Linked DNA regions of Homo sapiens. The protein of the gene in region 2 purifies or fractionates together with the protein of the main gene of each other region. This does not show direct contact. Each region holds a gene or a part of one and is shown on either strand. Other genes may lie near its edges.

Region 1 (3,800 bases), on a different chromosome or scaffold from region 2:
AATGGCTTAGTGGTACAACCAGGATTCTGACCCGAGACCGTTCCCGTCCTTCAGCAGACTAGCTGGCCAGTGAGCCAGCAGAGTACTTAGAGCATCTCAAAAATGAAGGCATCGACAACCCTCCGCTACTGAGGCCCAGGCTCCACACCCACCTGCCCCATGAATGGCCCAGTACCTTTTTTACCCTGAAACTCCCACCCCTGCAATGCAGGCAGCCCCTCACCTGTAAGGTCCGCTCCTGGTGGACACCCACGAAGTCCAGGGCCTCAGGCAGGAAGTTGTAGCGCAGAGTTTTGAGCAGCTGCTCCATCAGGGACATGGACAGGCGGTAGACTCCTGGCCAAGAGGGGGCATCCAGGGACTTCCGAGAGGCACTAGGTGTCTAAGATACAAACAGCAGACAAGCTCAGGAACCCTGCTGAGAGGCAGGACCTCCTTGTAGTACAGCAACTAAGGCAGCCCAGCTGCGCTGAAAGGAAAAGATCTCCCAGAATAGACACAGCCACTGTCTGGCCACCAGGGCCAGAAAGGGGCCAACACCAGCAGATTCAAGGAAAGAGCACCAGGCTGAGACACAAGACCCAGGGTTCCAGACTCAGGTCTGCCACTGACGAGCTATGCGAACCTGGACATGTCACTGCCCTGCTCTGGCCCCTACATACTTCCTCTAAGGGGTAGCTGGGCTAGATGACCAAATACTTCACGACTCTCATGAGAGAGAGAGGTTCAGGTGAAGACTACTCTTTTGAAATTAGGAGGTATCTGTTAAACTAGAAATAACCAAGGGACACAGAGGGCAGGGTGCTGAGGCCCCATCAAGCCCCCAGACCACCCACTTCCCTTCTCCCAGTCCTGGTCTGGTGGTGCAGGGGTGGAGAAGTCACAATGACACACTGTCTTTGGGAATGACAGGAGAGGACAGCTGCCTTGGCTAGAGGCCTGGTCCAGGGATGTGTTATCAATCTGGTTTAGTCTTCCTCACACCTGCAATGGGAAGAATCCATCCCATCTCCCAGAGGTAGTGCACAAAGGCCAGGCGGTGCCTTTTAGTGGTGAGTTTCTCTTGCTAGAGATCCGCCTGGGGGCAGGGAAGATTCCTCACCATCAGTGTATTAGGCAATTTAGAGGAAAGCAACTTCCGGGGAAAGGTAGGGGAGGACACTTTTCAACTGGAACTGTAGGGTGGTCAGGCTGGGCCTCCTGGCAAGCTCCTGACACTCACCTGTGCTGTGCCGTTGGTGCTCAGCTGGTACACACTCAGAAGGGGCAAACAAATGCTCTGGGTGATGCCAGCTCCAGCCACTGCTGTGGCTCCCTGGGAGGAGGGAAAGACAGGAAATGAGATGGAGCCTGCCCCTGCCCTGCCTAGGGTAGGTAGGGCTCTCAGGCTAGATCACAGCTTCTGGGATTGTCAGAACCCACCCAGGCAAGCAAGGACGCTCCCTCCTGCCTTCGGGCTGGCCTCCTACCTGCTGAGTGCGAGCCAGGGTGAGGAGCAGATGCAATGTGGCCTCAGTGAAATGCAGGTTCTGCTTCATGCGAAGGCTCACCTCTAGAGTGGTGAGGAGGGTGGGTAGGATGGGGAGCCTGCGGGTTACCTGCAGCCAGGAGTCACCATCCTCGTCTACCTCACACAGCTCCTTGGCCAGGTGCAGGCCCAGGACACACACCTGCCCAGAGGCAAAGATGAGTAAAAGGGGGAAGAAGAAGAGGAGGAGGAAGAGGACGACAGGCAGCGGTGGGCCTGGTTGCCCAAGACCTGCTTGGTTACACACATTGCTAAGTGAGCTTGAGTAACACAGAATGCACACTCTCTCCCACCCTGCCCCTCTCCTATGTCCAGCTCTCAATGAACAGCAGCAACTCCAGCCAATCTAATGAGCAACCCTAAACTGACCAGAGCTACCCCCGCCTCTTCCCTCCCACCTCCCACACTGCCACCACCCTTGTCAGAGCCACCTCGTCTCATGTTGGACACTCCAACCAACTCTGCCACATGGAGTCTGAGGGACCCCTACGACCCTGCCCGATGCCACCTCCTGCTCTGCTACTGCAACCATCTCCTAAATAATCCTGCTCCATCCTCTCTAATCTATCCTTGTACCAGTGGCCTTTCAACCTTCTTTTTGGCCATGACCCAGAGTCATAAAGACATTTTTTTTGAGATGGAGCCTCGCTCTGTCCCCCAGGCTGGAGTGCAGCGGCGCGATCTCGGCTCACTGCAACCTCCGCTCCTGGGTTCACGCCATCCTCCTGCCTCAGCCTCCCGAGTAGCTGGGACTACAGGTGCCCGCCACCACGCCCGGCTAATTTTTTGTATTTTTCATAGAGACAGGGTTTCACCGTGTTAGCCAGGATGGTCTCCATCTCCTGACCTCATGATCTGCCCGCCTCGGCCTCCCAAAGTGCTGGGATTACAGGCGTTAGCCACCGTGCCCGGCCCATAAAGACTTTTTAGACTGTATCCTCATGTACACGTTTACAGTTTTTCACTAATAATACCTACCCTAATGTCACACAAAGCACAGTGATATTTTCTTAAACACTTTATTCTACTTTATTTTAAAAAAATGCTGGTTGTGGCCAGGCGTGGTGGCTCACGCCTGTAATCCCAGCACTTTGGGAGATCAAGGCGGGCGGATTACGAGGTCAGGAGATCGAGGCCATCCTGGCTAACACAGTGAAACCCCGTCTCTATGAAAAATACAAAAAGTTAGCCGGGCGTGGTGGCAGACACCTGTAGCCCCAGCTACTCGGGTGGCTGAGGTGGGAGAATGGCGTGAATCTGGGAAGCAGAGCTTGCAGTGAGCCAAGATCGCACCACTGCACTCCACCCTGGGCGACAGAGCGAGACTGGTTGTAACAAAATGTGCTAATTTCAAGACTCTCTCTAATAGGTCATGATCCCACAATTTGAAAAATACTATTCAATACTGCATCCAGAGTGATCTTTCTTGGGCACGCCTGTAATCCCAACACTTTGGAAGGCTGAACTGGGAGGATGGCTTGAGGCCTGGAGTTTAAGTCCAGAGTGATCTTTCTAGAGTAAAAATCAGATCAACTTTTTCCCCTGCTTAAAAGCCTTACATCATTTCCTATTTCACTTCGGATCCTGCATTTGCCCGCGGCTACAATCTCTAAGTCATTGCTGAAAAGGCACCTAAGTCCCAGTTCAAGTCAGAAGTGAGACTAAGTTCTCCCTGCACTTCTCTCCTGCAGTACAATGGGCTGCTTCTGCTTTTCTGCAGTGTCTGATCTATTAACCTTTCCCACCAGGCCGTGAACTCCAGAAGTGCAGCGACTATCTGTCTTGATCACTACTTATCCCCAGAGTCAGGCACAGAGCTGGCGGGCAGTGGAAAGGACGGATGGCCTTCTAGGGCACTGTCTCACCCCATCACGCTGGTCCCTGTGCCGGGACCGAGAACAGTCGTCAGTCTCCATGCTGTCCTTGTCCTCTGTGGCACTGCCTAATGCCAGACTGTGGCGGGTCTGGTCGAAGAGTGCAATCACTTCCTCTTGGAGGGTCTCACAGACATTCAGCACCAGCTGGGAGTACTGGGGGATGTCACTTACTGTAGAATAGACAGGGAGGGACACTGTCATGCTCACCAGGCCAACTCTCACTGTACACCAAGGTTTCCTTCCTAGGAAGGGGCTGGAGATGTACTAGGGCGCTAGGAGGGACAGCATCTGTCCAGTGGGAGAGGAGGGAGAGACACATGAGGGAAAAAAATAGCTTTCTTGGGGTAAGAATTCCATGACTGGAAACTCAAAAGTCCCAGAAGAAATGTGTGGCC
Region 2 (4,403 bases):
TGAGCAAAAATGAAGCTGAGAGGTGAACTTGCCGAAGGCCCCCCAAATAGAAGCCAAGCCAGAATCCCTACCCCGGCCTGCCTGAGGCCAAAGCCAAGTGCTCTTTTCAATGAGTACCAAAGATCCCAGTTCAATCAAAATGTGGGACTTGGGGGTCCCACGTGCTAACCTTAGACAGTGGAGCCACCCAGAGTCCTGCTCGTTGATGGCATCTGTAGAAGAGCAGCTGGGAGTGTGGGGGCCTCTGGCTCCGGGCCACACAGGCAGCAGGGTCCAGCCAGGCTGGAGGCCGGCTGGTGCAGACAGTAAGTGAATTATGAAACGAGGCAAGTCATCCAAGCAGGCTGGCGTCGGTGGGCAGGGAACTTTGCCCCGCTTCGCCTTCTCCTGTTCTGTTCACAGTGCGACTGCCTGGCCCTCTCTCCCTTTCTTCCTCCTGTCTTTCTGCTTTCTCTTCTGGTCCCTTTTCTTGGCTTTCTTCATCTTTTCTCCCTCCCTCCCTCTTTCCCTTTCACCCTCTCCCCTACCCAGCCCCACCCCCGCAGTTACTGTGGCAACAATTCAATGCCAGAAATAAAGGCAGAATCCAGCTAGGTCACCAGTTCCCAAAACAGCATCCTGGGTGGGGAGGGGCAGGGAGGGTGGAGCAGTGCGGCGCTGCAGGGCAGGGGCCAGGCGCTCCCATGGGTGCTGTGCATGCGTGTGATGTGGGTGGGGTAGGGCACCTTGCTCCCCGCACCCCCCCGCCACTGGAAAAGGACACCAGGAGGCTGAGGCCTGCTCTGGGCCAGTGGCTCATCAGAGGTGTCCCTTACTTAGGCGAAGCCTGAACTCCAAGTCTGTCCTAAGGCTGGCAGAGCCTGGGGACTCCCTCCTCTTCTCCCACTTTCTCCCTCTCCCCTACTCCAATGTTTTTTACCGTTGTGTCTGCTGGGATGAGGGTTCCCCTAACCCAGCACTACAGGGCACCCTCTCATACTCGGATAAAGGACCAGGCCTGGGTGGGTGGGGAGCCCAGAGTCCCCCTGCTCAAGGCCTGCCCTCCCTTGTTCTCTCAATAACAACAAAACCGGGCCCAGGTGCCCCCTCCTGCCTCTCTAGCCCACCCAGAGACGCATCTGTGCAGCCATCTTCTCCTAGGTCTCTCTCTGGTTTGGTTTCTATGTGCCCTCTCCACCCACCCTCTGAAGAGACCCCGCTTTCTGCTTTCTGCATCCTGCAGCCCCCTCAGGCGGACTGCTTCCCCTCCATTTATAGCTGGTCCTGTTGTACAAGTGGGACTGGCAGAGCTGGGGGAGATGCAGCCTCAATTCAGCTTTCTGGATCCCAGGGCCTCCCTGTTCCAGTCCCACAACACCCAGGAGCTCTAGGAGAGGGATTCTGCAGACATCCACCCACGGGTGGACAACCTCACCCAGGAGTCTAACGCCTGACCACAGAGAGGCCGGCAGCACGGACACAAGATGGACAGGTGGGCACAGGCAGAAGCGCCCGCGCTGAAACCGTTGCAGGACGCATGCACGCGGGGAGACTCCGAAGCCCTGTGTGCCAGCTCATGCCCCCACTCTCCCATCGAGGCCCCCTCACTGTGACACATGGTGCTGCCAACACCCGCTCACACCCACCCACCGGTCCTCTCCCTGGCATCCATCCCAGAGTAGTGCACGTGTACAGCAACATACACAGAGCCCTCCACTTACCCAGCTCTGGAGGCCTTCCCTGGGCTCCCCATTCCCACAGCCCAACTGCCTTCCTTGTCTTGGACCTGTCCCTGCTCCCCTGACTCTCACAACCAGGCAACTGGTCCCTGGAAGGGACACACTGGGTGTGTCTGCCCAAGAAAGGGGGCTGGACCTGCTAGGCCCTGAGGGACAGAGCTAGGGAGGGGGAGCCCCAGAACCCTGTGGGGGCTGCATGTCTGCTCAGCCCTGGCCCCTTCAAGCACCCCAGCGGCGGGCACAGGGGGAGTACTGGGCTTGGGCTTGCAGCTGCGCCCTGCCACAGCCTCACTCTTCACTCAGCCCCACCCCAGCCTGGCCAGCCACTGGCTGGGGGCAGGCTCTCCTCCCACTCCCCCTAAAAAGCAGGCTCCAAACAAACAGCCTCAGGCCCCTAAATGTACTGCTCCAACCCCCAGAGCATGTGGAGTGGTTTTGGGGAGGCCAGCGGGCCAGTATTCAGCAGAGAGGGAATGCTCCCCTGCCCACCCCGTGCCCCCACAGTCCATCCCTTCCATTGCTGGCCTGCTCAGCTAGGTAGGCCAGGCAGAGATGCTGGCAAAGAGGGGATTGGGCTGGGAGCAGTTCTCATCCTTGGGATGAGAACACCCCAGGCCCTCTTCCCCAGATCAGAAGGTTCCATTAGATCAGGCCCAGCTGGTCCCAGGGGCCGGCCCATCCTCCCACTGAACAGGGCCCACAGTGGGCTCCCCCCAGATACCCTGCTGCCACCCAAAGCCTGGCTCGCCAGCAAGCGCTGTGGCCCAGAGTGCCCACAGAGGGGAGGAGAGGCGGAGACCCTGCCACCTACCTCTTCCCAGACAGTGTGGCCCAGACGCTCTGAGGCCACAGAGGCCCGAGAGGCGTAGGCCAGATCCACGGGCTGTCACTTCCCCCAGGAGCCTAGGTAATAGGTGTCTCTTCCAGGAACCCCGCGGCGCTTCCCCGGAGCACAAATAACAGGAAAAATGCCGGCTTAGGGTGGGTGGGCGGGGTGGGAGCTGGCGAAGGAGGGGAGCTGGTCTCGGCTGAGCGGTCTGATCTCCCCTCTGGGCCCCCACCCTCCTTGCCCCCACCCTGCTTCTCTGCAACGCACGGCCGCCTGGATCCCCCGGTGCTGGGGAGTCCTCGTCTGGGGGCGGGAGGGCGGGCGGGCTGCTGGCTCCCCCACGCCCTCCCCGCGCCCTCCCCACTTCCAGCTGATAGCGTGTGGCTGGCAAGGGTGTGTGTGTGGATGTGCGCGCTCTTCCACCAGCGCTGCAGCTCAATCCATTTCAAACAAGAGGAGCATTAACCCAGCGTCATGACAAAGCAGAATCAGCCAGCACTGTCCTCTCCCTTTCCCACACCGCAGTCTGCAGCACTCACACGCACACACACACCCACACGCACCCAGAGCCCCTCAGCCTCCTCCTAAACAGCCAGAGTTCAAGTTGCTGTGGGCGGTGGGTCGAGGGAGGGGGCTACTGATGACCCAGGCGGACAATGCCTGCTTTCTCCAGGCACCTGCACCTCCTACCCTATTCATGACCACCCCACCATCTGACAGCAGCAACTGAGGCCTCTGGGGCCCAGCCTCTTGAGGTGGGGGTGCAGGCACAGGCCAGAATTGGTTACCCAAGGATGAGCTCTCTCCTGGGAGGGTAGAATGGAGGGATGCAACCAGGTCCTCAGTACTGAGACTTGAGCTGGCCCCTCAGTAACCTGAATCCCCTGGGAACTCCAATGGGATGCAGCAGAGAGAGAGAAGGACCCCATCTCTCCCTAGGGTGGCTTCATGAAAAAGGAGCTTCCTGCCTGGTAACCCCTGGGTCCCAGCACAGAATTTACAGGCATGTGCCTTCCCTGTCTCTAGCAAAGCCTCAACCACCCCAGGAGCCTCTCATTGGCCTTTCGGGCCCCCTGGGCAGGATGGGGAAGGACAACAAGCCTTGCCCTCGACCCTCGCCCTGGCCCCAATGTCCTCTCCACCTCCACACCGCAGACTTGCCTACCTAGGCAGCCCTCACCGTTGCCCTGGCAACCCTGCCCCCAGCCGGTCAGCTGATGGTATCAGCTGTTGTTGGGGAAATCTAGAATCTGGGGAGGGGGCTCTGGGGTGTCTGAATGGAGAAGCACAGGGGGAGGGGCTTGAGGGAAGAGGCCAGGAGGGGACAGAAAGTATCTGGCTGGTGGGGACAGAGAGGACAGTAACCTGAGGGATGGGCTCCAGAGAGAAGGGAGGAAGGAAGGAGGCAGGTGGCTGAGAAGGGAGACAGAACACAGGCTGAGCTGCTGCAGCCAGGCGGGGGTGGCTGTGAAGGTAGAGAAAACCTGGGGGTGGGGGATGAAGCATCAGATCCATGGAACTGCAGAGAAAAAGGCCAGGAGAGTGATGTGGGAGGGGGCATACCTTCAATGTGGCAGAAAGGGGCACAGCCTTGGAGGAGGAGCCACTCCAGCCATCGCTCCACAACCAGCCCGGCCTCAGCCCAGCCTCTCGGCTTTCTGTACCTTCAACCCCACCCTTACTTCCCTCTAATCAGAGTCTGAGAGACAGAGGGGAAGCCCCAGCCCCACTCCAGCCCTAGATGATCTCTCTCGGTCCCTCCAGCGGACCAGGTACTTGGGGCTTTGACACCTCAGCCCTTTAGAATTCCTGATCCCCGCCGCACCCCGACCTGGGTTCCTCCCCTGTATTGCCCC

The links.
Region 1: the proteins of DMTN (region 2) and NUP188 purify together in Homo sapiens (affinity purification with mass spectrometry, with the first as the bait; one large-scale study listed by BioGRID). This does not show direct contact.

The regions. Positions count from the first base shown.
Region 1 is NC_000009.12:128,999,399-129,003,198, reverse strand, and holds part of NUP188 (nucleoporin NUP188), read right to left. Parts: intron 3,576-3,800; coding exon 3,394-3,575; intron 1,671-3,393; coding exon 1,470-1,670; intron 1,316-1,469; coding exon 1,223-1,315; intron 383-1,222; coding exon 224-382; intron 1-223. UniProt on the Homo sapiens protein: Component of the nuclear pore complex (NPC), a complex required for the trafficking across the nuclear envelope. Required for proper protein transport into the nucleus.
Region 2 is NC_000008.11:22,055,263-22,059,665, reverse strand, and holds the start of DMTN (dematin), read right to left. Parts: upstream 2,853-4,403; 5' UTR 2,530-2,852; intron 1,803-2,529; exon of another isoform or gene 1,701-1,802; intron 587-1,700; exon of another isoform or gene 170-586; intron 1-169. UniProt on the Homo sapiens protein: Membrane-cytoskeleton-associated protein with F-actin-binding activity that induces F-actin bundles formation and stabilization. Its F-actin-bundling activity is reversibly regulated upon its phosphorylation by the cAMP-dependent protein kinase A (PKA).